2 linked regions of the Homo sapiens genome follow. The protein of the gene in region 2 purifies or fractionates together with the protein of the main gene of each other region. This does not show direct contact. Each region holds a gene or a part of one and is shown on either strand. Other genes may lie near its edges.

The links. Proteins that work in one complex are often made in the same cells at the same time.
Region 1: the proteins of GPR160 (region 2) and RNPEP purify together in Homo sapiens (affinity purification with mass spectrometry; one large-scale study listed by BioGRID and IntAct). This does not show direct contact.

What each region holds. Positions count from the first base shown.
Region 1 is NC_000001.11:201,985,648-201,989,147, reverse strand, and holds part of RNPEP (aminopeptidase B), read right to left. Parts: intron 245-3,500; coding exon 104-244; intron 1-103. UniProt on the Homo sapiens protein: Exopeptidase which selectively removes arginine and/or lysine residues from the N-terminus of several peptide substrates including Arg(0)-Leu-enkephalin, Arg(0)-Met-enkephalin and Arg(-1)-Lys(0)-somatostatin-14.
Region 2 is NC_000003.12:170,082,995-170,085,892, reverse strand, and holds the end of GPR160 (probable G-protein coupled receptor 160), read right to left. Parts: intron 1,989-2,898; 5' UTR 1,921-1,988; coding exon 904-1,920; 3' UTR 501-903; downstream 1-500. UniProt on the Homo sapiens protein: Orphan receptor.

The DNA of each region.
Region 1 (3,500 bases), on a different chromosome or scaffold from region 2:
CTGAATGGATATAATAATTTACCACTGAAACGTGACCTGATTGATAGATCTGAAATCATTTCTTCATCCCAAGGGCAGGTGCACCTAACCTTAGTCTCCTTACCTCAATAAGAGCTGAATACTTGTATTTAACAGCAGGCGTGTCGAAGCAAGGGAAGAAGGCCCGGTTTAGGACAGCCTGGCCCTGGGTGTACACGAAGGGCTTCTTCTTTCCTGCTGTCTGCTCGGGAGCCAACCAGCAAACCTAAGCGAAAAGAAGAACATTTCAGAACTGACATCTCCCACACGAGCTCAGTCTGGCCAGAGAAGTGAGCTGGCTGGAATGAGAGAATTTTAGGTAATCCTTAAAACCTTTCCGCCAGCCAGTCTGGTTTGAACTAGAAAGCTCTCTCCTCTGTGTATTTAGTTCATCCTGGAATCCATGCCAAAGTATGACATCCACTTCACAGGGCAGAGCCACCAGAAAGGGTCCATTCCTCACTGCATCCCATGGGTCATCTCAGAGACCTTGGACCGAGCCTCTGATCTTGTCATCTGTACCCTATCTGTGTCCTTTTCACTGTAGTAGTTTCTCATCAAACAAAAAACTACTGAAGCAACTGCATTTGGACTTGTGATAAGACACAGAAAAGCAGAACTCAACTGGGAGTCAGTGATTAATATGTTTTTTTTTTTTTTTTTTTTTTTTTTGAGACAGAGTATCGCTCTGTCGCCCAGGCTGGAGTACAGTGGTGCAATCTCGGCTCACTGCAACCTCGACCTCCCAGGTTCAAGCAATTCTCATGCCTCAGCCTCCCAAGTAGCTGGGACCACAGGCGCGTGCACCACCAAGTCCAGCTAATTTTTGTATTGTAAAGATAGGGTTTCACCATGTTGGCCAGGCTGGTCTCCAACTCCTGGCCTCAAGCAACCCGCCCACCTCAGTCTCCCAAAGTGCTGGGAATACAGGCATAAGCCATCATGCTCAGCCTAATATACATTCTCTTTTCTTTTCTTTTTTTTTTTTCGAGATAGAGTTTCACTCTTGTCGCCCAGGCTGGAGTGCAATGGTGTGATCTCAGCTCACTGCAGTCTCCGCCTCCTGGGTTCAAGCGAGTCTCCTGCCTCAGCCTCCCAAGTAGCTGGGATTATAGGCATGCACCACCACATCCGACTAATTTTGTATTTTTAGTAGAGACGGGGTTTCATCATGTTGGTCAGGCTGGTCTTGAACTCCTGACCTCAGGTGATCTGCCCGCCTCAGCTTCCCAAAGTGCTGGGATTACAGGCATGAGCCACTGCACCTGGCCTAATATGTGTTTTCTGTTCCTAAAATTTACCTTTTCAGAAGAAAGGTATTTTATATAATAGGCACTGGTTATATGATTCTTTATCTGTGTTCTGTTAGCTCTTAAACAAAGGGCAAATCTGGGTTGGGTGCAGTGGCTCACGCCTGTAATCCCAGCACTTTGGGAGTCCGACGCAGGTGGATCACTTGAGGTCAGGCGTTCGTGACCTGCCTGGATAACATGGTAAAACCCTGTTGCTACTAAAAATACAAAAATTAGCCGGGTGTGATGGCATGCACCTGTAATTCTAGCTACTCAGGAGGCTGAGGCAGGAGAATTGCTTGAACCCAGGAGGCAGATGTTGCAGTGAGCTGAGATCATGCCACTGCACTCCAGCCTGGGTGACAGAGCGAGACTCTGCCTCAAAAAAAAAAAAAAAAAAAAAAAAAAAGTAAAATCTGAATGATTTATCACAAAACCCAGTTTTTGCCTATAGCAAACAGCCATTCATTTACCTGGAAGAGGGGCAGGATGGAGCATAGGTCAGTAACAAATAGCATTTAGAATTTAGAAATGGATTCGATTACTCCAGGATGATTTCATAGGGGAAGAAAACTTTCTGGCTGGACCTTCAAAGACACGCAGGATTGAGATGGCTGGAAAGGAAGGGAGGAGACATTCACAAGGAGACGAGCAGCAACATGAGGAGAGGCATAAACAGATGCAGGCTCCAGATGCAGAGTTGGGGAGGCAGGCCTGGGCAAGTCTAATGAAGGGTTCTGAACACAGCAGTGTCTGAGACCTATTTTAAGAGGCATAAGGAAGCTACGTTGGGATGCTGGGTTTGAGTTTTTGTGTGTGAAAAATTTAATTAGTCTCCTTATAACAGGTACAGTGCAGTATAGAAAGGGATGAGAGAATAACTTCACAGTGGAGAAAGCTGATAATCACTGCTTCAGCCAGGGGACCGAGGTTAACGCTGACAGTCATAAATCATGTGGATACTATGCGCCCTCAATACCTGATGAAAATGGCACTTTGGCTGGGCGCAGTGGCTCACACCTGTAATCCCAGCACTTTGGGAGGCCGAGGCTGGTGGATCACCTGAGGTCGGGAGTTCAAGACCAGCCTGGCCAACACAGTGAAACCCTGTGTCTACTAAAAATACAAAAATTAACCAGGGTGGTGGCATATGCCTATAGTCCCAGCTACTTCGGAGGCTGAGGGAGGAGAATCGCTTGAACCAGGGAGGCGGAGGTTGCAGTGAGCCGAGATCACACCACTGCAGTCCAGCCTGGGTAACAAGAGTGAAACTCCATTTCAAGAAAAAAAAAAAAAAAAAAGAAAGAAAATGGCACTTTACCTCTGTGAATTGCCCCTCAAAACCCATAATCCCAATCTAATCATGAGAAAACATCAGATAAATTCCAATACAGGGTCATCCTACGCTATACCTGGCCAACACTCCTCAAAACTGTCAAGGTTGGCTGGGCTCAGTGGCTCACACCTGTAATGCCAGCACTTCGGGAGGTCAAGGCAGGAGGATCGCTTGAGGCCAGGAGTTTGAGACCAGCCTGGGCAACATAGGGGGACCCTGTCTCTACAGAAAAAATAAAAATAAAAAAATAAAAAACAAAAAACTGGCTGGGAGCAGTGGCTCATGCCTGTAATTCTAGCACTTTCTTTGGGAGGCCAAGATGGGAGAATTGTTTGTTTGAGCCCAAGCGTTTGAGACAAGCCTGGATAACACAGTGAGACCTCATCTCTACAAATAATAAATTCAAAAAATTAGCTGGGCGCAGTTGTATGCGCCTGTAGTCCCAGCTACTTGGGCTGAGGCAGGAGGATCACTTGAACCAGGGGGATCAAGGCTGCAGTGAGCCATGATTGTGCCACTCACTGCACTACGGCCTGGATGACAGAGCAAGACCCTGTCTCAAAAAACAAACAAACTGTCAAAGTTATATCAAAAACAAGGAAAGTTTGAGAAACTGTCACAGTCCCAAGAGGATACATGACAGCTAAATATAATGTGGAATTCTGGATGGCTTCCTGGAACAGAAAAAGACATTAAGTAAAAACTAAGGGAATCTGAAAAAACTATGGACTCCAGTATCGGTACTGGTTTATTAATTATAACAAATATATTATTATACTAATGTAAAATGATTCAATCTTGGTTAATAATATATCAGCATTGTTTAATTGTAACAAATGTGTCATACTAATGCA
Region 2 (2,898 bases):
TCATATTGTTTTACTCCAGTGAAGCAACTCTGCCTATCCACCGGGGGAGATTTGGCAATGTCTGGAGACATTTTTTATTGTGTCTACTGGGCATGGAGGTGCCACCAATCAGTCAGTGGGCAGAGAGCAGGGATCCTGCTAAACTGCCCCACAACAAAAAATTAACCAACCCCAAATGTCAAGCGTGCCGAGGATGAGAAATTCTACTTTTACGTGTGATACATCATTGCTAACGTGATTATGATGTGATATGCAAGTATGTGATGACATACAAGTTTTATAATATGAAAACGAATCTGCTGAATCATCGAAAGGGACCTAGTCACTGCTCCCAGTTCCATAAGGTGAGCAACCAAAACCCTCTTCTTCCAGGAATATTTGCATTAAAAACAGAGATATACTTTTTAAAATTAATTAGCTACATTTAAAATGAGGTAATCTTCTTCTTCCTCTTACATTGAACTTTATGCCAAATCATTTTAAGAACAATTTTTACTTTCTTGCTTTCATTTGAACATTTAATAAAAATGTTTAGGTTGATATCTTAAAGTTGTCAGTGAAATCTCAGATTTACATAACAGTTTGCATCCAGTAGTTTTTTTGAGTAACACAAACATCAGTATAGCCAAATGTTAACTCTTATCACTTTTTGTGTTAATAACAAAGTAATATTTGTAATATAGTGTCCCTGAATAACTATAAAAACTTCTTGGAATTATTTTGTTTTTAAAATAAAACACTATTTAATAACTGGTATCATAGCCCTTCAAAAGACACATTCTGAAATGCTATCAGTCAGGGGGCAAAAGTTGTTTTAGTTCAGTTTATTTTTTAATATGTCCTGAGTTCTTTCTGTTCATAAAATTATGATCTTATGACAGCTGTAACTTTTAATTAATAATATTAACAAATCATTATTGATATAGGCTTTTCAATTTGCTCAAGATTAGGAATTGTAAGTGGAATGAAGCAGCACTTCCAGTTGACAAATGGATCCAAAGGTAATCCAATGTCTTTTAAATTAAGCTTGTGACAATTAAACCAATACACTGTAGCAATGAGAAAACTATTGACAAAGTATAACCAGGGAATATTCATCTCAATATATGCTGGAATCTGAACTTTAAGTAAAACAATGATTACCTGAAGTAGTACAAATGGTAACCAGGTACTGAGAAAACAGACAATGAGCTTGGATAAGAATATTTTTTTAGATCTCACAGTATAACTGGAGTGGGATGAAAAAGGAAAATATAAGATAGTTTCATTCATATAGGAAGTTATCCTGATAGCCTGTACCAAAGTAGTAACTTCTTCCCAACAGGTTATGAAAGCTACAAATAAAATCATCACCATGAAAAATGACAGCCAGTAACTCTGAATGCTGACATAGAAAGGACAGTGACGAGAATAAGCATTCTGTGCCTTCAGGCTTTGGTAGATGGCTGGGTCTCCCAAAACATAAGCAAGGACTGAAATCCAAATTAAAATTACTGTAAAGAAATAAAATAATTTTTGACACTTAAATGAAAGCTTGGTTGTTTTAGAGAAATTCAGGCAATAATCTATACAAGCTGTCAGGAAAACTGGATAATGCAAAAAGCCATAAGTAAAGGAAATAATTTGAGTAAATAGGCAGATGTGGTATTTAGTGAACCTAATGCTTAAAAGTACAAAATCCCTGAAATACAATATAATGGAAATGTTTACCAAAAGTAAAAGATCAACGAATGCTAGTGAAATGCAAAAATATTCCATAAAATTTTGACAGGTGTTTTTTCTTCTCATTCCTAGTGTAAGGATATTTAATAATATTTTCCCAAGTATGATCAAGAATAGCAGATAGTTAACATCTAGGGGCTGGTTTGTTTGACGTAACTGGTACTGAAAAGAGCAGTTCTCTGAAGAGAGAGCAGTCATATTTTTAGTTAAATTTCAAGAAGACCTGCTGAAATACACATGATAAAACACTGCTTCATTTTCTGTCCCTGCAAAAAAAGTGAAAAGAAAACCTTAATGTTACCTATTTTGAAACTTTACAAAGCAAGCACCACTATTCTTAAAAGCCTAATTCAATCATTTCCCCAAATAAATATATGAATAAGAATTATATGTCACATAATACTTAATAGAATACAGAACAAAATTAATGTGTATACTCTGGTCATTTTTTTGAGACCCAGATGGTCCAGAACTCAGAGATTTTTAAACCAAAATGTTATATATAAATTACTAACTTCTATATATAAGTACAGGTTTTAATAACTTTTAGATAGAGAAATGGTTTTATCTACCAGGGCCAAAACTCATGCCTAAAATAGAAGCTTGATAGTAATATGCAAAACAACCACATAGAGCTTTTAACCCCACCTCACTCTGACTCCAGACAGCATGACCCCAGTCCCTTTTGTCAGTGAAGTTTAGAAGCGATGCTTATGGGGCCCCTTAACACAGTTTTCAAAGCTTTTTAGCTGCAGGATCCTTCAGATTAAGTCTTTTCCTGAAGCTCTGAAAACAGGTGGTTTCAGCTAAAAATAATGAGAACATAGGTAAAGGAAAGAAAGAAAAGTGTTTATCTTCTGGATATGATCTTTCAGGTATGGCATGTGGAGAGACGAGAATACAGGGAAGGAACAGGGACTCAGTATGGATACATGAGAACATTAGGAAGCGGTAGGTAAAGGCAAAGGAATAGGAGTTGAGGCTTCAGTGATACATACATTTTGGAAGCAGGAAAAAGATGATGAAAGAAGTCAGAAGAAGAATCAGGAAAGGACTGAAAGGAAAGGTAGGAGATTCAAGAAACACATCCTTAAAAAAAATCAGTTGACCCAAACTTAACTTATTTCTACAATACTACTCAATCGCAGTATTTATAAATAGCAAAAAAACAAAAAC